3 linked regions of the Homo sapiens genome follow. The protein of the gene in region 2 interacts with the protein of the main gene of each other region in a pairwise test. Each region holds a gene or a part of one and is shown on either strand. Other genes may lie near its edges.

What was found. The genes of interacting proteins can lie anywhere in the genome.
Region 1: the proteins of TEX264 (region 2) and TSPAN12 interact in binary tests that used the Homo sapiens proteins (3 or more experiments, as listed by UniProt).
Region 3: the proteins of TEX264 (region 2) and EMP1 interact in binary tests that used the Homo sapiens proteins (3 or more experiments, as listed by UniProt).

Annotation. Positions count from the first base shown.
Region 1 is NC_000007.14:120,855,122-120,862,737, forward strand, and holds the start of TSPAN12 (tetraspanin-12), read right to left. Parts: upstream 3,024-7,616; 5' UTR 2,699-3,023; intron 2,088-2,698; exon of another isoform or gene 1,714-2,087; intron 1,713-1,713; 5' UTR 1,643-1,712; coding exon 1,577-1,642; intron 1-1,576. UniProt on the Homo sapiens protein: Regulator of cell surface receptor signal transduction. Plays a central role in retinal vascularization by regulating norrin (NDP) signal transduction.
Region 2 is NC_000003.12:51,667,202-51,674,257, reverse strand, and holds the start of TEX264 (testis-expressed protein 264), read right to left. Parts: upstream 3,007-7,056; 5' UTR 2,970-3,006; exon of another isoform or gene 2,794-2,969; coding exon of another isoform or gene 2,711-2,793; intron 2,632-2,710; exon of another isoform or gene 2,555-2,631; intron 2,381-2,554; exon of another isoform or gene 2,279-2,380; intron 2,205-2,278; exon of another isoform or gene 2,175-2,204; intron 2,049-2,174; exon of another isoform or gene 1,957-2,048; intron 1,918-1,956; coding exon of another isoform or gene 1,866-1,917; intron 1-1,865. UniProt on the Homo sapiens protein: Major reticulophagy (also called ER-phagy) receptor that acts independently of other candidate reticulophagy receptors to remodel subdomains of the endoplasmic reticulum into autophagosomes upon nutrient stress, which then fuse with lysosomes for endoplasmic reticulum turnover.
Region 3 is NC_000012.12:13,213,726-13,220,464, forward strand, and holds the end of EMP1 (epithelial membrane protein 1), read left to right. Parts: coding exon 1-96; intron 97-808; coding exon 809-966; 3' UTR 967-6,216; downstream 6,217-6,739.

The DNA of each region.
Region 1 (7,616 bases), on a different chromosome or scaffold from region 2:
CAAATTTTTCAAAGCTTTATTCTTTATTAAACAACAACAACAACAATCTTAGTAATTCTAAGGTTCAAAACTCAGTAAGGGTCAAGTGAAAGACACTGTCTAGGGGCAAGAAAGCTGAATTCTGTTCCTGGCACTGCCACCATTGGACTATCTGATCTTTGGCAAGTCACTTAATCTGCACTTAATTTCCTCACTCACAAAGGAAGGACGTTCAACCAGGCCATCTTTAAAGCTCCTTTTAGAAGTGGAATGTGATGATTCTATAATTAAAAAGCACAATGTAGAAAAGTGAAAAACTAGTAAACAGGAGTGATAATTATCATACATCTTAAAGAAATGGAGTTTAAACTCTTAATAACTTTTAATGATCCAGGTAATTTAATGATTCACTTAAAAATCAAGCTTTTAAGAAGTATAAACTACAATAAGATCAACTTGTGATTTTACATTTCCAAATGGTGAATTTAACTACCCAATGCTTTAATTTTGAGAAATTAATGCTTTAATGTTGAGAAAAGGAATGCTGCCATTTTAGATATTTTCAGATTACTCACTGAAGTAAGACTTAATTTATCCTTTAAAATGGGGCCATCTATAAGGTGCAGTTCAACCTAAATGTCATCTTCTAGAGACCACATGTAATAGCCCTATGAAAAAAAGGCTGGGCAATGCCAGCCAGTCAGCACGCCAGCCAGTCAGCCACATAAATAAATTGCACAATAAAATTTGTAACAGAAAATTTTGAATAAAATTATTAATAGAACACAAAAAAATGGAAAGAACAATTTGCTTAAGAATGGCAGCCTCCTGAAGCAACATTTACTGTTTAAATTGTTACATTTTCCTAAGTTTTATAAGTAATAATACGATTATTAATCATACTTTATTAAGATTTAAAGCATAAAAAGTCATTAACTCATAGGGCATAAAGATTTCCATGAGCTTGTTACATTTTATGTATTTTATTTCCTTAAATGGTTATGGGATTTTCCAAAAGCATACACACAATTCCTTAAACTTTGCCAACTTAGAATTAGTTACATAAAAATCACCCTTCAGACCGTATGGAATCCCCTAGACAAATCTACTCAGCCTTTCTGTGATAGGTTATCTGGGTGTGAATTCCACCACCACCTCCCCCTCGTCCCCGCCCACAAAAAATATATTAAGACTTGGCCCAACTAGATTTTACAGGCGACAGAGATGTAAAGAAACAATTTATGGCTTGCACAATTATCTAAAATTCCCGCAAACAAGCAGTTCCCTAAGTAGTATGTCATAATTTTCTTATCTATGAGTAGAAGCACGTGCATTTATTTATATCCCTAGATTAACTTCAAGTCTAATTTTACTGCCAGTAGTATCCAGGGGTGGATTTCTTTGTTCTAATTACAAATGGAACTTGAGCTAGATCAAAGGCATTTTAAGAAGGTCAAATTTTACTTCTCTGAAAAATAAAGGGTGTTATCCCATGTAATTAATTAATGCTTAGCCATGCCCTTTGGCGCATTATCCGGTGGCTGCAGAAAACCAGAGCCAGCCGTTCCCACCTGTTGGTGCAGTGAAACTTACTTACCCAAAAGAGCAGATTGAGGGCGTAGAGCAGGCAGCGCAGACACTTCACGGAATCTTCTCTGGCCATTGTGAGCCCCGTAAGGGAGAAGCCCCATCCTTTCACCACATCCTACTCCCAAGGGCAAAACGGCAGCGATCTGCAGGGGGCGGGGGAGAGAGAACACGGGACATCTCACCATCACGCTTCCCACAGCCTGCCCGTCCCTCCTCCACCCGCCCTCAGCAGGGTCCAGAGGGTCCCGAGGCCCAGTGCATTCGAGACATCGCCTCATCAAAAATCATTTGTTAAAATCATAATGGTAACTAAACTCCCAAAAGTTCCAAACCGGCTTCAGATAACACCTGCTGGGAAAAGAAAAGAGCAACTATCCGGATGAATGAAGTCGCACAGTAAACTCGCGTTCTCAGGGGACACGCGGCGGAGCCCTGTGCATTCTGATGAGACGCTCTTGAAAACCTCCCTCACTCCACGCCCCTCCTCGAGGACAGCTGTGCTCGGCACTGTCCTGAAGGTGAGAAACCACACTGCCCCCTACCCCGGACACGTCAGAGGCGCCACCGGCAAGCCCGAGAGAATGAGCGCCCTTCTAGTTAGGACAGTTCCTGGGCACTCCAACTCCGCACCCCTCTACCCCGTCCCGCAGCTCGGGTGTGAATGCAAGGGACTGGGGCGGCGGGGCGGGGGCGGGGGCGGGGGCGAGGGGGCAGCGCGGAGTTGAGATTCCGCCCGGCTACTAGGGTTTCTCTGGGAGAACGTGAGAAATGATGTTTTCGGCCCCAGAATGATGGATTAGCCTGGGACAGTGGGCGGGGGGCGGGGGGCGCCGGGGAATTAGGGCCGATGCAGCTGTGCAGACGCCGGGTTAGTCATTCAAACCCCGCTTCCCCCGCCCGGGACGCTCCCGCGACCCCTCGCTCAAAGCCGCCCGCGGAGCACAAAGCGAGCGCGGCCACCGACCCAGCCATCGCGTCCGCGCGCCCCCGGCAGGGCGCGAGGGGAAGCGCCGGCGGCAGGGAGCCCCAGAGCCAGCCCTTAAGTAGTTTAGCACACAGCGCGGAGGGCAGCCGCCGGCGGGCTGGCGGGACAGCGGGCAGGAAAGGCGACAGACGCGTGGCCACTTACCGTCGGCGCTGGGCCCGGTGCCCCACGCCCGCCTGGGGATAGTCGGGGACGCACGGCGGGGGCTCATCGGGGCAGGGAACTTCTTCGCGGAGAGCCGGAGGGCTGCATTGGCTTCAGCTGGAGACGCTTCTTTCTCTTCCTCTCCCCCCGCCGCCGCCGTCGCCGCCTCCTGGGAAAAAGAAAAAAAAAAAAAAAAGTCCTGGGCAGCAGTTGCTGGAAAGTCTCTGCTAAGCCACCTCCCAGCGCCGCTGTCCCTCCCAAGTCCTCTCCGAGTCCGGACGAGGCAGCGGCGGCAGCCAGGGCCAGCTGCACAAACTCTCAGCGCATGCTCGAGCCGCTGGCTGCCGGGGTTGGGTCCTAGTGGGTGTTTCTTGTCCCTCTCACCCAGCGAGAGTCCCCAAAGGGACGCTTCACCTCTGCAGGATAGGGTCCAGAAGATAATGCCTAGGAACTTGGGAGAAGTCCGTGCAGTAAATCCCTTTAAAATGGTGGCGTCGAAGGAATGGAGGCTGGGTTATAAGCATAGAGAAGCAGGCTTTTATTATATGATAATATTTGTGTTTGAGAAGGGGGGTGAAGGGGTGGCCCAACCCAATTCCTGCAATGAGAAACTAGTTTTCACAACCTTTATGGAGCCACCTCCTGTGATTTGTTATTAACATGGTGCCCTATGATCCTTCTTATTGCTTTGTTGCCCTCCCGGATTTTTTTTTTTTTAAGTTCTTTCCCACTTTCATAGTGCACTAATAGCATTTACGGAAACATCAGAGTAATCATGTGCAGTCTGACATGCAGAAGAGGAGGAAAGAACATTTTTAACTCTTAGAAGTAACTCAAGCTTTCCAAAATTTCTCACGATAAGATTGTTTTGAGTTAACTGGGTGATTTATTTTGAAATGTGTACATAGTAGTGGATCTTTGGAAAATCTAATTTTTTTAAACTAGAAATTCATGAAGTATTACACAGCAGGAGACCATCCTTCCAAAAGAATCTTCCCTTTTAGAAGACAGAAGTTTCACACTAAATAAAATGCCACTGGATCATATCCTCCACATAAAATGTGGATGTGTTGTGCTATGCCTCACAGTACTGCTCATTTCTAGGATTACTTTTGTGGGCACTGCATGGCAAATAAAACTTCACCAGCAAATATGAATTACCTGGAATACGAGCAACATCTTTGACCTAATAACTGGAGTCCTTGGATTTCCTTGCAGAAAAAAAAAAAAAAAAAAAAATGGAATCCTATGTCCATGACTGCCTGTCTAGAGTTAGTTGCTGCATGACTGGAGTGACAATAAGACATGCAGTCTCATATGGAAAAGTCAAGACCAAAAGACAACATGGTTGTCCTGGGTTAGGCTAGGAAAATTATTGGTAAGCAAGTCACTAAGCAGTATGTAAGACAGCAACCCAAAAGAGTATAAAGAAGTATAGCCATACACAAAAAAAACACCAAGAAACATGTCCAGTTATCCATCAGATGACTCCAACTCTGATAATGAAGCAGCTTCTAGAATACTGGGGAAGAGCAAAGAAACCCACTTTTATCCTCTGCCAGTTTCTTCTCAAATTAGGGTGCATGCCTATTTTAAGCAAAGGACTGCTGAAACAACCAGCCATCCAAATGCTGTTGGTGCCATACATTCCCCGGAGAGGTATAAACATCCCCGCATTGAAAGGAGTCCATGACTGCTATTAAAACTGAGAAAAAGAGTGCCAACAATTCCCATGTGTCAAAGCAGAGATCCTCTTCTACTCCTAGAAGGTAGTTAAGTGCCCTTTCCTTAATTCGTATACCTTTAAGGGTCAACTGCCTTAAAGTAATAAAATACTAGAGGAAGTTACTTTAGAAGTATGCATGTCCTCTTCTTCCTGGTAAACAAGAAATACAGATCCAAGATAAAGTAGTTGCTCAACGTCACATCTGTAGTCCAACCTAGATTCCAAAGTAAAATCCAGAATAATGGCTCTTAGTACTCTAGTTTAATGGTTCTCGAAATTGTTGTACACGAGAATCACTTGGAGAGCTTTGAAACAACCCTAATTCTCTGGCATGCCTGATACCACTTAAATCGGAGTCTCTGCAGGTGAGGCCTAGACACACAGGGTTTTCCAAGCTCCCAAGGTAATTCTAGTTTGCAGCAAAATTTGAAAACCCTGCAACGAGGGCTTTACAGCTGCCTAAAAACTAGCAAAAGGGTCTCTTTAGATTTCGTTGGATCAAATCCCTCTCCTGTGAGTCGATAAATTGGGATTATTATCCCCATTTTACAAGTTAAGAAGAAAACAGAGCTGTAGTTACTGCTCTAATATTCCTGATAAATGGTCATCAGAGACAGTGAATCAACATTTCAGTAGAGGAGACCTCACCACATTTGAGACATTGCAGTAATGGGCAGTTTTTATTGCTTAAACTTGACCATACCACCTTTTAACTTCTACCCTTCAACCTTAGTTCCGCCCTTGGAGTCCATGGCATGAGCAAGCCTTCCTCCCATATGACAGCCCTTCAACTACTTGAAGGCAGCTGTTCTTCCCTCCCTCTCCAATTCTTCTCTTTCCCAGAATTGTGGAAGCACAGTAAGACTTCACATCGCAGCTGTCATTCTGAGGGTTCTATATTTTTCTCTGTGAGATCTGTTTTTTTGTGTGTGTGAACAAAAGGAGGATAGAAATATCATAATATGCACATAAAAATTTGAATATGTAATAACATATTAGGAAAATTGTATGGTCTATTTACTACCCATTAGTCAGGAACCCAATTCTGTGGCCAGGTGTTCTCCAATAAGTATCATTTCAGTGGTGGTATCTACTGTGCCTCATGCTGAAGATACTAAGACAAGTTCTTACCCTCCAAGAAAAGGCAAAACTATCCTTTCTTATTATATAATAATAATAACAATAATAATGACATCAAAAAGTAATAAAATAAGCATTTACAAGGAATCACATACATGTCAGTCCCAGTGTCAGGAGTAAAACTCAGCTATATGTAAGAGAATACAAGTTCCTCACTCCGTATGGCAGCTTGTTTGTTCATATCTTATTCTATTCATTCTGCTAAAGTTGTGGAGAGAAAAAGGATAACACAGGAGTTTGGATGTATGAGTTGCTATTCCTTCTTAGTACAAGACCCTCACAAGTACTCCTAAGCCAGTACTTTACAATTAATATGGGATAGACACCTAATGTGTTTTGAACAAATTACATGTGTCTGACATAATAGGTGCTTCTCACAATTTATCTTATTAATTCCTCATAACTATATGTTGAGATACTTGAAATCAATTCAGATAGCTGATTTTTGCCAGACCCACACAGGTAGTAAATAAAGAAGCTGAGATTCTAAGATCTGTCTGATTCTTTCCACTGTTTATCTGCATTACAATAAAATTTCAAATCTGGTTGGACAAGACTTAAGAGGAAAATTTTCGAACTTTTTAAAGTTAGTTTTCGAGAATATGAAGCTGAAATTCAAATATGTGTACTTAAACTATGACTGGTAAATCTACTTTCACCTCACTTCTAAAAGAGTATACAGACCTAATAAGACCTGAGAAAATCCTTTCATTACTGAATTAAGTAGACTGCTTTCTACTGTAAGCTTAGGATTGCCAGATAAAATACAAGACACCTCATTAGATTTAAATTTCAGATAAACAACAATTTTTTATTTTTTGGTATAGGCATGTCCCAAATGTTGCATGGGACAAATATTGCACTGGACATACATATACTAAAAAATTATTCAATGTCTACCTGAAATTCAAATTGAATTGCAAACCCTACATTTGTATTAGTTGAATCTGGCCTCCCTATGCAAACTAGCAAATGCACTCAAAGAGCCACAAAAACAAATATGTTTCACATAACAATGAGTCCAGGAATAGCGATTCATCTGCCCAGTAGTGATATCAAGGAATCAGTTCTTTTTCCTCCTTACTCTCCTGACACACACAATGAGTAATCATACTATACTCAGGTACCTCCTCTTATGGTCACAAGATGGCTGTGCAAATTCAAGCATCATTTTCAGTTACCATTACTTCCAAAGGAAGAAGGTATTTTCTCCTATGAGTTTCTCTTAGGATCTAGCAAACCTCTCCCAGGAGTTCTGCAGCAGATTATCCCTTTGATTGATTGGCTAGAACCTGGTCACATACTCATATATCTACCAATTATTCACAAGAACTATGGTTCTACCATAACTGGTTTGTTTTGTTTTGTTTTGTTTTGTTTTGTTTTGTTTTGTTTGAGACAGAGTCTCACTCTGTCACCCAGGCTTGAGTGTAGTGGCTCCATCTCTGCTCACTTAACCTCTGCCTCCCGAGTTCAAGTGATTCTCATGCCTTAGCCTCTCGAGAAGCTGGGACTACAGGTATGCACCACCACGTCGTGCTAATTTTGTCTTTGTAGAGACAGAGTTTCACCATGTTGCCCAGGCTGGTCTCAAACTCCTGTCCTAAGGTGATCCACCCACCTCAGCCTCCCAAAGTGCTAGGATTACAGGTGTGAGCCACCATGACTGGCCAGGTTTTAAACCAATCAAGATGTATTACCTGTGCCTGGGACAGCCCTTCTCTAAAGCACAGGGCCAAAGAGAGGAAGGTAGATAACTGAACACAGTCAGATTTTTATTTGAACTGAGGGATAGAGAAAGGAAGGCATAGTACCATCCTCTCTCCTGTTCACTGCTAGGACAACCCAGCTCTCAGCCAACCATTTTGGGGCACTACTTAGCAAAGTTTCTTAGTTATTGAAAGAACCACTGAAGCAGGAACCTCATGGCAATAGCAAAGGACCCTGAGAAAACTCGTATCACATCATTTCCATCCCATGCCATAAGCTTACTTTCAGCATCGTCATTTGCATTTACACACCAGGTAATTCTTTAAAGAAGTGCCCAAATCA
Region 2 (7,056 bases):
AGAAGGGAGAGGAGGCTGGTAGCCTACTCTGACAATGTGCCCACTTGCCCGCCAACCAGTTCTGGCCCAACCTCCTCAGACCTGCCTTGGGTGCTCTGACCCAGAAAGGGGAGGGGCCAGAGGTGTTTACACACAGAGTGACCTGGAAGGGAGCTACAAGGATGACTGAAGCCACAAGCCTCTTTATTTCTTAATCGCAGTTGGTGAGGATCTCAGAGCAGCTCAAACTGTCAGCTGGCAGCCCTGGTCACACCTGGGGAAACTGAGTCACAGAGGGGCACAGGAGTGATTCAGCCAGAGACATACTCCGGGCCCTGACAAGTCTCCCCGAAGATGTACCAGATACCAGCCAGCCTGCCTTTCCTCCACATTACCTCTTCCTCCCCACAGCTGAGCCACGCCACCAGCCCAGCCTCCCCAAGCCTCAGGGACGACTGCCAGAGGGAGGACTGGCAAATGCTAGGGTCCAAACACTTACTAACGACAGGGAAACCATAAGGAACAAAAACTTGTGAGGAAAAATGTGCCTCAGGAAGAGAATTTCATAAGAAACTCTCCTTTTCTAAGTACATCTGGCCTGCAGGGACCTTGCTATCCAGCAAGCTTACCCATCCAGAACCAGAGGAAAGACCAGAGCAAAGCGGCCTGAGCAGGCAGAACAAAGTCCAACACTAAGCTTCCCAGACTTGAACCACCAATGTTAACAAGCTTCATCCCAATTTTCCAGCCCACAGAAGAAACAGTGAGTAGTAAGAGGAAAAGGCTGCTAAAAGGGGAGTCGCACAGCAGGAGGAAGTAACAATTATCCCTAAGAGGAAAAGAAGCTGTTCAAGAGCAGTCCCAGGAACATAACACAGAGGCCAGTCTGTGAGCTATTCAAGGCAGGCTGCCTAGTTCTCCAGGCAGCTTGGGGCCAGAGGCCTAACCCTCTTACACAGAGGGCTTGACCTGAGTTGCCTGGCGGGGGGGAAAAATCACAGCCCAGAGAAGACTGTTTAAAGAGGAAGGGAGCCATGTGACCCACTGGGGGGACATTCCCACCCCAATTATTTAAAAGTAATATTTAACATTTAAAAGGTTTTGAAGCTAAAAAGGCCACGCTGCAACTTTGTGGAATACTTAGCTCTGTGGAATTATTTCTTCCCTGTGGGTGCTGGGTGTTGATTTTACGCTAAAAAAAAATTGTCTTTGGAGTCAATGAGCACACAGTATTTGCTCACAAAGAGGCAAAGTAAATTTCTAAACTTTCGGTGTCAAGAAATTGAGGTGTTGCCCACTAGTCTCACCCATCTGTGCTTCTACCCATCAGTATCTCTCTCTTTTCTGCCTGTCCTACTCATCTTGTCTCCAGTAACTTTCATTCCAATTTTCTTTGATAATGATGAGAAATCTTCCACTGAATGCTTACTATACGCCAGGCACTGTCTAAATGTTGAAACACAGCTACTTCATTCACCCTCAAAGCAATCCAAAGAGGTAGGTAAGGCTAAAGGTTCAAGTAGTTAGAGGTTAAGAGACTTGCCCAAGGTAACACAGGTATTAAACAGAGCCACGTGGACCAAAATGCAGGCAACACAAGCCCAGACAGTCTGATTCCAGCCCCTCATTTCCACTTTCTCTCTCCTCTCTGGTGACTGGCTTCCAAAACGCCTGAAGCATTAAATCCTTGTTGGACATCTCTGAGCCCAAAGCTGGAAAACTCTCAGCATCTAGGCCCCCACTTGCCTTGGGAATGACAAGCCCTCACCCTGATCTGCCATCTCAGCTGAACACTTCCTGTCTCCTCAAGGAAACTTAGTATCTACCTTTCTCTTCCTCTCACTTCCCAAACTGCTCAGAAAACGGCGGGGGGGAAGAAAACCCACCTGGGGGTCTCAGAGCCTTGGTCGGCACGTGGAGAGGTAACGTGAATTTCCCCTATATTCAAGAGAAAAGGAAGAAGGTCTGGGAGCTCACCTGAAATGCCAGGCTCACTTTTAGTAACTGCTGGCATCCAGTGCGGCAGGGGCCGAGCGCTCCAGTGCTGGGAGCTGAAAGAACAGTCACCCCTGCCCAGGAAATAACCACTGAGCCAACCATCATGCCCTGATTACCGTCCTCAGGGAAAGCCTACCGGTCCCTCTAAAGCACCCTCGTCCCATTCTCAAACCCCCTGTGGAAATCAGAAGCCAAACCTAGCTTTACAATGTCAGGTCTCTTCGCTAGAGCTCTGGTCACGCCCCTCTTCCTGGAGTACTCCAATCACACTTGGCGCCCAGAAACTGCCGCTGCCGCTGACCTTGGGCAGACTGCGCCCTCCCTCTAGCCTCGGCTCCCCCTCCGCTCAGAGGCCCGGGATGGACGCGTGCGGCCGGTGCCAGCGAGCCTCAGGGAAGGCTGCGCCCAGCCAGCTTCCTGGTGCCGCTCACGTGCGCGGCGGCGGAGGGCCGGGCCCTTAAACGGCCCCCGTCCTGGGCTAAACTTCGGTGCTAGCAGAGGGCGGAAGGACTATGGAGGGTGGGGGGCCGCCGCCTCCCACTTTCGGATTCCAGCCCCTGCTCACCCCGGGCCTTGCCTATTTACTCAGAGCCTTTCTCTTCGCCCACCTCCTCACGGAGCCCCACGCACGTCTGTAACTTAAAGGACGCTAAAGTTTGCAGCCCAGGCTGCGAGGCGCGGCCTTGGGGGACGGGGGCGGAGTTAAAACGCGACTCGCGCCTCTTTCCCTCACCTCCACGGCCCCGGGGCATGCCCTGCACCGGTGGCCGCGGAAGTGGGCTGCCCGGAAGAGTAGGGGCTGCCCCAAGGTCGCATCCAGGCCCTCGGACCTGGCCGAGGCCAGCTGTGGGCAAGACAAGATGCAAAGAGCGGCCCGGGCCGCGGGGGTCACGGAGGGGACACGGAGAGTCCTGAGGTCGCGCCAGGGCGGACAGGGGGAGTCCCAGACCTACGCCCCAGTGGGTATGCCTCTCCTCTGGCCCGGCCCTCACCTCAGCAGCCGCCCGCTGCGGACGCCGATCCGCGCAGGCGGCTCAGGGTTCGGTTACGGAGCCTGCGCGCGCCCGCCGCGCACGCTCGCTCCGCCCCCTCTCGCGGCGGGACATGGCCGTGGCCGTGGGCGCGTGCGCGCGGGACCCGGAGGGCGGAGGCCTGCCCCGCCCCGTCTCCATGGCAACGGGCGTGTGCCTAGCCCCAGCGCTGGCTGCGGCGGAACCCACGGCGTACCTTCCCGCCTCCAACAAACTATCCGGTTGCTGAGGTTGATTTAGCAACACCCCAGGGCATCTGGGTTGGCAGGAGCACCACAGTGACAGCCTGGCCCAGGCTCGGGTACGGGAGGCAGCCCAGTGGCCCGCAGTAGAGGGCCAGGCTGGGGACCAGGGAGCTGGGGCTGAGGAGAATTTGTACAGCCTAGGGAGGCGCAGCACAGCAGTATCAGCCTCTGGCATTTGTACCACCTTTAGTCCTGCCACTTTCTCTCACTGTGGCTTCGCAACAGACTTGGGAACCAAGAAAGGCATAGGTGAGGAAGCTGAAGCCCAGTCTGGGCTCGCGGAAGAAACTGGTGGATCCAACTTCTGCATAGCGCAAATATCTGCTTCCTGCCTCCACCCACCCATTCCCACTTCCGTGAGTATATTCATCCATCCAACACTTATTATTACTCCTTGCCAGGACAGTTCTAGGGGCTGGGGATAGAGTGAACAAAACCAAGGTTCTGCCCTCCTGGAGTTCACGTTCCATGGGAATGCCCTTCTTCCAGGCTCCTCCCTCAGTGCCCAGGTTGTGGCTGTGGGAGGCTGGTCTACCTTTGTGGTTTAGCGGTAACTTACGTGATTCCCACGTCAAGTGTAAGCTCCTTGATGATTGGTTCAATCTTCACCTCAAATTTCTGAGGACCTACAAACTACAAAGCACTCTTCTAGGGGCCCAAAGATAAAACGCTCCCCTCGTGAAAATCCCGGACTTTTGGTGGGAGGTGGGGAAGGTGACAACTATGCTCATAAGCTTGGCTACAAGACCGGCGAGGCCAAGAGCTACTTTGGTATCCTGACAAGGACTGATGTTTGGGAGGGGGATCCAGCAGATGGGAACACCACGAAGGTGGTGGTGGGAAAAGTCAGCAGTCACAGGGTGGTTCACCTTGTGGATCCCACTACTGCACCAGCAAAGAGCAGGCTGGGCACACAGAGACAGTCAAAATCCCAGCTTCCTTTCCCTCTGCTTCACATTCTTCCTTCCGCAGGCAGGGGAGTTTGAACCTTATCCACAGGGCCAAGCCTGTCCCAGCCCTCTAGGCAAACTGGCAGAACAGGCAGCTGGCCCCTCACAGGCACTCCGGGCTGGGCCAGTGCAGGTCGCAGCAGTTGTTTTACCTATGAACATCAAGCACATGGTCAAACCCTCAGCTTAGGTGCCCCAGGCAGGCGGGCTACACACTTGGTAGCATTTCCTTTGACACAAGGAGCAGCCATGGCCCGGGCTCAGAGACTGACAGCCTCTGCCTGCAGGGTCTGCGTGGTCATTTCTCCTGCTTCTCAGAAGGTGGTGAGCTTTTCCCAGGAAACCATTATAAGGAAGTGCCCATTCTTTATCTTGTTCTCTCTGCTCACTTCCCTTAGCCTGATTGGGGAACTCTAGAGCCCCACATCAGAGTTCAACATGTGCCTCAGGAGCTTCAGCACCTCTTTTGTGGGAGGAGAGTCCGCTGGTGACTGGGGCTGCAGGCCATGACATCAGCCTGCCCAGCTTCACCTCAGGCTGCTTCCAACAGTGCCAAGTGAGGTCCCTTGGCAGGATCCCTGCAAGGCAGCGGCTGGCCACCAGGAGGCAGCAGCCTACTCTACAAGGCACTTTCTTCATTCCAACCCCTTGTAACAGGTCTGAGGAAACCTGTTCGCCCAGCCATGTGCTGCAACCATCCTCCACTCCCAATCTTATCTCCCAATAGCACAGATTCCCCTATCATGAGTCCAGACTTGGCCTTCATCTCCTCTTGCCTTCCTCTGTCCAAGGAATCACTACAGAGATTCTTTCTCTATCCTTCTTTGTAAATTTCCAGAAAATTGTTTCCCCAGGGCCCCTCCCCTTGAAGAAATTAAACAGGAAGCTGGAGTAGACTGTCCCTTCTTTCCCCCACCTCTCACACTCCAAAGCTCTGTTTAACTCTGTGGGCCAGTGGCTAGATTCCCCAACATGGATGACAGAGAATACACATGCAATAAGAATGTTTTCGCTGCCACCAGCCACTCACAGACACACTGTCTCCCACCCTCTGAAGGCATTGTGCCCAATCCCCAGCCACTCACTGTCTAGTCAGGGCTGCCCCTGCAGGACTTGCCTTGGCTGAGGACCAGCTAGCTTCAAGCCACTCTGAAGTCAGCTTGCTGTTTCCCCTGGAGCCTGGTAATACATCCTTCTTCAGGTGAACAAAAGCAGAAAAAGCCCAGTGAACCCCACTGCAACAAAGAGCCTGCCATCAGTCTTCCTTCTGTTCCTGCCTATCTCATCACCCAAGGGCTATCCCAGAGCCCACTATGTTCTAAGATCTATTCCTTTCACCACCACCCAGCCAAACAACTATCCAGACAATTCCTTGATCAAACAACACTGCCTTCTTGAGTTTAAATTTTATTTTACAAAAAGAGAAATAAAGAAAACTGATAGGCAGTTATACTGACTTACAATTGTTCTGTTTGCTTTTTTTTAAAAAAGTGACATGAAACACAAGTAAAAATAAATACGTCATAGAAACAGCCAGTTGCCCAGTCTCTGGGGCAGGAGCGCCTGCCCTGCTGAGAGGAGGGAAGCCCATGATCACACCAGCAGCTGGATCACCCAGCCACAGATGCTCCTCGAAGCCAGGCACAGGTCCCAGGCCTCAGGGGCGTCCTGAGGAAAGAAGACGGAAAACCAAAGCCAGGTGCCAGGACCCTGGGGCCACCTCATTATCCCCCACTCCTCCTGGCAGCAGTCTGGTCTTAGTGGTTATCCATAGCGACCCCCCTTAACCCACCTGGACCCTCTTCCCCTGACCTCTCTGAAGATGGTACAAGGGAAAAACCTGTCTTGGGCAGGCTGGGGGGGATTCTTCTGGTGAGTCCCCAGCCCACCCTGAGTAACACAACCAGATAACAGTCATTTTACACCCAGGTGCACATGAGCACAGCACACAAACACACACACACACACTCACACACACACACACACACAGCTGGGCTGAGCTCTCTTCCAGGGAGGGTCCTGGGTCCAGTCACAGTATGAGGTCCTCTCTCTTCTGAATATCATCCCAGTAGTGGCAGCAGAGAGTACCCAAACCTCCCCAAGCCCTCTGCATTGCAGACACTGCAGCCTGCTTGGCTACCCCTCCCCAACACACTAGATTACTATGTCAAATAGACCTGCAAAAGGGAAAGGTGCACACTCAGGTCCCTGAAGAGCAAAGAAGTTGGACACTGCCTGCTCAAGAAGTTCATTGTTATAAGACTCAGGTATTCATAAAAGGCCTAGGGCTAAGCTAGTAGCACAGAAAAGCCGTTAAGGGGATCACAGCAGAATACACAGGGCAGAAGAGAAGAGTTGGCAGCAGGGGAACGGAGTCTCAAGGTGACCAATAGAGAGCACAACATTCTCAAATAGTCCTTGAGGTGCTGATTCCTGGGAGTAGTCAGCAGAGGGCCAGAACATCTCCCAGGGGTCCTTTTGGGGAAGGATGACTTCACTTAGTTTTAGGGGTGAAGAGCCACTGAGCTGGGTGCACAGAAGGCCATGGCTCAGAAGGGAAAGACTGATCTGAGAAATCAAAAGGAAGTGGGGGCCAGGAGCAGTGGCTCACGCCTGTAATCCCATCACTGGGAGGCCGAGGAGGGTGGATCACTTGAGGTCAGGAGTTCAAGGCCAGCCTGGCCAACGTGGTGAAACCCCGTCTCTACTAAAAAATATACAAATTAGCTGGGCATGGTGGTGTGCACCTGTAATCCCAGCTACTTGGGAGGCTGAGGCAGGAGGATCGCTTGAAACCGGGAGTGGAGGTTGCACGGAGCCAAGATCACACCATTGCACTCAAGCCTGGGTGAC
Region 3 (6,739 bases), on a different chromosome or scaffold from region 2:
TCTGTGTCATTGCCCTCCTGGTCTTCGTGTTCCAGCTCTTCACCATGGAGAAGGGAAACCGGTTCTTCCTCTCAGGGGCCACCACACTGGTGTGCTGTGAGTATCTCATGGGTAGACTCCAGTTTACACTTTTAAGTCCATCTTACCATGGGTGTTTCTGGCAACTTGAACAGATTAGCACATGGTTCAGTGAAACTTCCTTGTGCAATTTTCTCCTCTGGTTATTTGTTCTCTTGTGGAGAACCTTGGATTGCTGCTTAGGTTAAGAACCCTCATCTGCTTCATTGTTCAAAACCAGTGCTCCTGGGTAGCTACCAAGTGGCAGTGCATATCTGTTAGTAGCACGTGTGTACAAGACACTTCAAGAAGGCAGAAAGGTAGGAGTTCTCAGAAAGATGAAACCACTGCCACAATGCACATCATTATTGTGATTCTCACTTAATTGTTGTTCTTTCCCAATATACTCGGTTTGGTGGAAGGACATGCTCTTTTGCATCCCTGAGTAGCTTTCCTAGACCCACAAGGGCCAGACAGGACAGCTGGGTGGTAGGCATGAGGTTCTGTGTTTTACATCACAGCGTGGCCACACAAACCAGTGCAGACATGAGAGCCCAGACACCTCTAATTTATCAACATACCGTCGAGCTTGGCCCAGGGGACATCCATCAGAACTCCTGTTTAGGGACAAACAAGCAGAATTCATTTTCCTATTGCTAATGAGGGAAATAGGATCTTCTTAAAATTAGTAAAACTTTTTCTCGACTTTAATGTAAGAAAACACACCGACAAATCTCCTTTTCCCCTGCAGGGCTGTGCATTCTTGTGGGGGTGTCCATCTACACTAGTCATTATGCGAATCGTGATGGAACGCAGTATCACCACGGCTATTCCTACATCCTGGGCTGGATCTGCTTCTGCTTCAGCTTCATCATCGGCGTTCTCTATCTGGTCCTGAGAAAGAAATAAGGCCGGACGAGTTCATGGGGATCTGGGGGGTGGGGAGGAGGAAGCCGTTGAATCTGGGAGGGAAGTGGAGGTTGCTGTACAGGAAAAACCGAGATAGGGGAGGGGGGAGGGGGAAGCAAAGGGGGGAGGTCAAATCCCAAACCATTACTGAGGGGATTCTCTACTGCCAAGCCCCTGCCCTGGGGAGAAAGTAGTTGGCTAGTACTTTGATGCTCCCTTGATGGGGTCCAGAGAGCCTCCCTGCAGCCACCAGACTTGGCCTCCAGCTGTTCTTAGTGACACACACTGTCTGGGGCCCCATCAGCTGCCACAACACCAGCCCCACTTCTGGGTCATGCACTGAGGTCCACAGACCTACTGCACTGAGTTAAAATAGCGGTACAAGTTCTGGCAAGAGCAGATACTGTCTTTGTGCTGAATACGCTAAGCCTGGAAGCCATCCTGCCCTTCTGACCCAAAGCAAAACATCACATTCCAGTCTGAAGTGCCTACTGGGGGGCTTTGGCCTGTGAGCCATTGTCCCTCTTTGGAACAGATATTTAGCTCTGTGGAATTCAGTGACAAAATGGGAGGAGGAAAGAGAGTTTGTAAGGTCATGCTGGTGGGTTAGCTAAACCAAGAAGGAGACCTTTTCACAATGGAAAACCTGGGGGATGGTCAGAGCCCAGTCGAGACCTCACACACGGCTGTCCCTCATGGAGACCTCATGCCATGGTCTTTGCTAGGCCTCTTGCTGAAAGCCAAGGCAGCTCTTCTGGAGTTTCTCTAAAGTCACTAGTGAACAATTCGGTGGTAAAAGTACCACACAAACTATGGGATCCAAGGGGCAGTCTTGCAACAGTGCCATGTTAGGGTTATGTTTTTAGGATTCCCCTCAATGCAGTCAGTGTTTCTTTTAAGTATACAACAGGAGAGAGATGGACATGGCTCATTGTAGCACAATCCTATTACTCTTCCTCTAACATTTTTGAGGAAGTTTTGTCTAATTATCAATATTGAGGATCAGGGCTCCTAGGCTCAGTGGTAGCTCTGGCTTAGACACCACCTGGAGTGATCACCTCTTGGGGACCCTGCCTATCCCACTTCACAGGTGAGGCATGGCAATTCTGGAAGCTGATTAAAACACACATAAACCAAAACCAAACAACAGGCCCTTGGGTGAAAGGTGCTATATAATTGTGAAGTATTAAGCCTACCGTATTTCAGCCATGATAAGAACAGAGTGCCTGCATTCCCAGGAAAATACGAAAATCCCATGAGATAAATAAAAATATAGGTGATGGGCAGATCTTTTCTTTAAAATAAAAAAGCAAAAACTCTTGTGGTACCTAGTCAGATGGTAGACGAGCTGTCTGCTGCCGCAGGAGCACCTCTATACAGGACTTAGAAGTAGTATGTTATTCCTGGTTAAGCAGGCATTGCTTTGCCCTGGAGCAGCTATTTTAAGCCATCTCAGATTCTGTCTAAAGGGGTTTTTTGGGAAGACGTTTTCTTTATCGCCCTGAGAAGATCTACCCCAGGGAGAATCTGAGACATCTTGCCTACTTTTCTTTATTAGCTTTCTCCTCATCCATTTCTTTTATACCTTTCCTTTTTGGGGAGTTGTTATGCCATGATTTTTGGTATTTATGTAAAAGGATTATTACTAATTCTATTTCTCTATGTTTATTCTAGTTAAGGAAATGTTGAGGGCAAGCCACCAAATTACCTAGGCTGAGGTTAGAGAGATTGGCCAGCAAAAACTGTGGGAAGATGAACTTTGTCATTATGATTTCATTATCACATGATTATAGAAGGCTGTCTTAGTGCAAAAAACATACTTACATTTCAGACATATCCAAAGGGAATACTCACATTTTGTTAAGAAGTTGAACTATGACTGGAGTAAACCATGTATTCCCTTATCTTTTACTTTTTTTCTGTGACATTTATGTCTCATGTAATTTGCATTACTCTGGTGGATTGTTCTAGTACTGTATTGGGCTTCTTCGTTAATAGATTATTTCATATACTATAATTGTAAATATTTTGATACAAATGTTTATAACTCTAGGGATATAAAAACAGATTCTGATTCCCTTCATTGTGTGAATGTTTTTTTCTAAAAAAAATGTGGAGAAATATGGATAATTATGACATTTATCCCTCATTAAGCTGCCTATCAGTTTGATTTGGACAACTTGACATTTATTTGAGACATTAAGCTACTTTCTGGTAATATATTAGGCATTTCTGCAATAGCTCTTTCAGGTAACTGAATATTATTAAGCATAGTTTTATCTTGCTTTGATTAAACCTCTTAGGCAAAAAATGGAACTTCATAAGCTAATACATTAGAAAGGGGTTATGATTATAAATCAGAAATGCTTGTGACATTAAGAAATGAGGCACTTGTGAAATTTCTTTGAAATAGCCAGCTCCTCTAATGTGTCTTCAAAATATAAAGTGATTCACAAAGGCATGCATCACACCTATTTGTAGCAGCCCATTCATTACATAAACCAGGGCATACCTGTGTGGGCTCTGTGAGTGAAGGGAGGCTTCACTACTTTCTGTGAGCAGTAAGGACTGGTATCTTTCTGTGAGCAATAAGGACTGGATAAAGACTGCATATCCTTGTGTCGTGTCAGCACCAATACAATAAGGAGGGTTTTAATGTGAAGCAGGCAATCTTCCAGCCCCTTCTGGTCTTGGATGAAATAGTTGCACAGAGTATTGCACCAAAAATACACAATGGAGGCTGAAAAGTTCAACATATTTTAAGTCAATTAATCAAATTGCATTGATTCTTGATGCTTTCTTAGAGGCCTACATGATTTCTTAGATTGCTCTGATAAACTATCATAAGGGGTCCACCTCCCCTCATTTAGCTCCCCCAGGGATTTCTTTTCCCCCATGTCATACACCCAGTCCTAAATCAACCCCCAAGGCTATCCTTCCATCCCTTCTGCAGAGGGAACTTTTGTCAGACTCTGCAACAAACTCCTAGCTCTATCCAGAGTGTCCTCTGCTGCTAAGATTGGTATCTTTCTCCTCAAAAGCCTGGATGGTGAATGGGGGTGCATTAGTCAGAATTCTCCAGAGAAACAGAAAAAATAAGATTCGCGTGTGTGTGCAAACATATATATAAATAAATAAAAATATATTTATTTTAAGGAATTGACTCACATGATTTTGAAGGCAGGCAAGCCCAAAGTCTGCAAGGGGTGGGCCAGCAGAGAGCTGGTGCTACAGTGCGGGTCTGAAAGTTGCCAGAGTCCCTTTTATAGAGAAGCTTAAAAAATATTTGTTGAATTAAATGTCTTAGGTAGAGACAAATTGAATTAAAGTGGTTAAGTAAATACTCTTAGGTGAAATTTGTGCAAATTATGAGTATAAAGAGGGTGAGCTACAGAACTCTCCATGACCACTCAAGAATGGGACCCAAAGGCAAATGATAACTTATTCATTCATCAAGGGATAAACTTGAGTTATCAAATGGTTAATAGATAAAGATCCCACTCTGCCTTGGATTTAGCCATCGCAGTCCCTGTGTAAAACCCCACCGGCTTTCAGGCATGGAAAAAAATTTCACAAAGGCCTTGAAAGAAGGCATATGAAGACCAAAAGGATATTGAGCAGGGTTCCATACTTGAATAAAGGAAGAAACTCCCTTCAATGTTTACTAAGAAATAGTTAGAATATAGCATATCCTGTATAGATGAAATGTCCTAGCGAAAATGTTTAAATGTATTTAAAGAAGAGCTAGATTTTGTGGGGGGAGAGAAGGGAATAGGATAGGCTGGTGGGAGGAAGAATGAAAAGAAGAAAACTTGTTGGAAATTTTGGAGTAGATTGTGAGGAGGGGTGACTCACTTTAAAGATGTATCATTTGGAGGTAGACACGATTTTCAGAGCACAAAACAGATAAGGAAAGATGTATGCTGATTGTGTGGAGCCCAAGGGAAGGCGGGGTTTTGGAGTCTTACGTGGCTTTGTTTCTGAAAGGGAGACATGTGAAGCCTACTCCTGAGGCGGGAGGCTGGGGACATGACCATCAAGACCTATAATTGATAAACAACTAGGGGCTGGGTGCTGCACCTACATGCTGGGGAAATAGAAAATGAAGCAGACATGTGTCCCATCTTCTTCCAGCTTTCAGTCTAGCTTGGAAATAAATCTCATACCTAGAGAAAATGGAGGATCTGTGGGATGTAGATGAGGTGGGAGCATGAATGCCTAGGGAGGGAAGAAGAAAGATTTTCAGTTCTTCAGCTTTTCCTCATGACCCTATCTCATGCCATGAGCAATTGTCTGGCATCTCCTGTGGGTTGGACCACTGCTGCATTTCTTACTTGCCAACATCACTTTGTCCCAAATGCCATTCCTTTGTTCCAGGGCCTCCTTGTCTTCCATCTGGGGAACTGGAGGTGAGAAGCATTATAATAGCCTCTCTGCCTTTATCTACAATCTCTCCAACCTGTGCTTTATGCTGATGTCAGGATGGGCGTTGATGGATGCTTCTATCACTGTCGGGGCAGGGAGGGCCAGAACACTAGCATAAGATGTCAATATGTCTATCCATATGTCAGGTCCATACTCAACTCAAGCTTCTGGTTAACTGCTGATCTATTGGCAACTCCAGTTCCCAATAAGTTCCTCATCTCCTTCTGAGACCACCTCAGTGTGGACTTAATCGTCCACATCACTGTCAGCATTTTGGTTAAAACCATTCAACAAGTCTCCAGGAAGCTCCAAACTTTCCTTCATCTTCCTGTCTTCTTCTGAGCCCTCCAAACTCTTCCAACCTCTACCCGTTACCCAGTTCCAAAGGTGCTTCCACACTTTCAAGTATCTTTATAGCAATGCCCCACTCCTGGTACCAAATTCCTGTATTAGTCTGTTTTCACACTGCTATGAAGACATACTTGAGACTCGGTAATTTATATAGAAAAGAGGTTTAATTGACAAAAAAGCTAACAAAGTGAGCCCTGATTCAAAAATGACTGTCTACACTTGGCACATGAGGGACTTTATGATATTAAGAGATTAATTAAACAACAGTGGATGGGGAGGAAGAACAGACTTTTGAGCTCTTCCCAATATAGGAATGTGTTAGTTCTAAAAATTTTCTTAAGTTGTTTGCTTGGAACTCAGAGTATATTTTTCCATACGAAAAATTCAGAACTATTTTATTTATGATATGGGCTAAAAAGACTTCTGTAATCTAGCTTGGAAACTTAATAATCATTAAACTTATTTTCAATGAGATACGACTGTTTAAATTCTGAAACCTGGAACCCTCTGTTGCCCTGCAAATGCTTTAGGAAAAGAAGAGTGTGTCTGATGGAGGATAAGATGGAAAGTGAATATGGATCCATATTCAGAAGACACGGTTGCATTACAGCAAAGGAACAGCTTTTTGCTGGCCATGCTAAGCATTTGACATTGATGTGGGAGAACATGGCATTCAGTATGACTCTGTCTGGATATATATAGTTTTGTAAATTGGGTGTTCTTAAGTTGAGACTGCATGTTTCATTCCAAAATCAATCTTAGTTTTCCCACTTGCATTAGCATATTGTATTAGTCCGTCTTCACACTGCTATAAAGACATACCCGAGACTGGGTAATTTATAAAGAAAAGAGGTTTAATTGACTCACAGTTCTGCATGGCTGGGGAGGCTTCAGGAAACTTATAATCATGGCAAAAGGGGAAGAGGTACGTCTTACATGGTGACAGGGGAGAGAGAGCATGCAAGAGAAGGGAAAACTGCATTATAAAACCATAAAT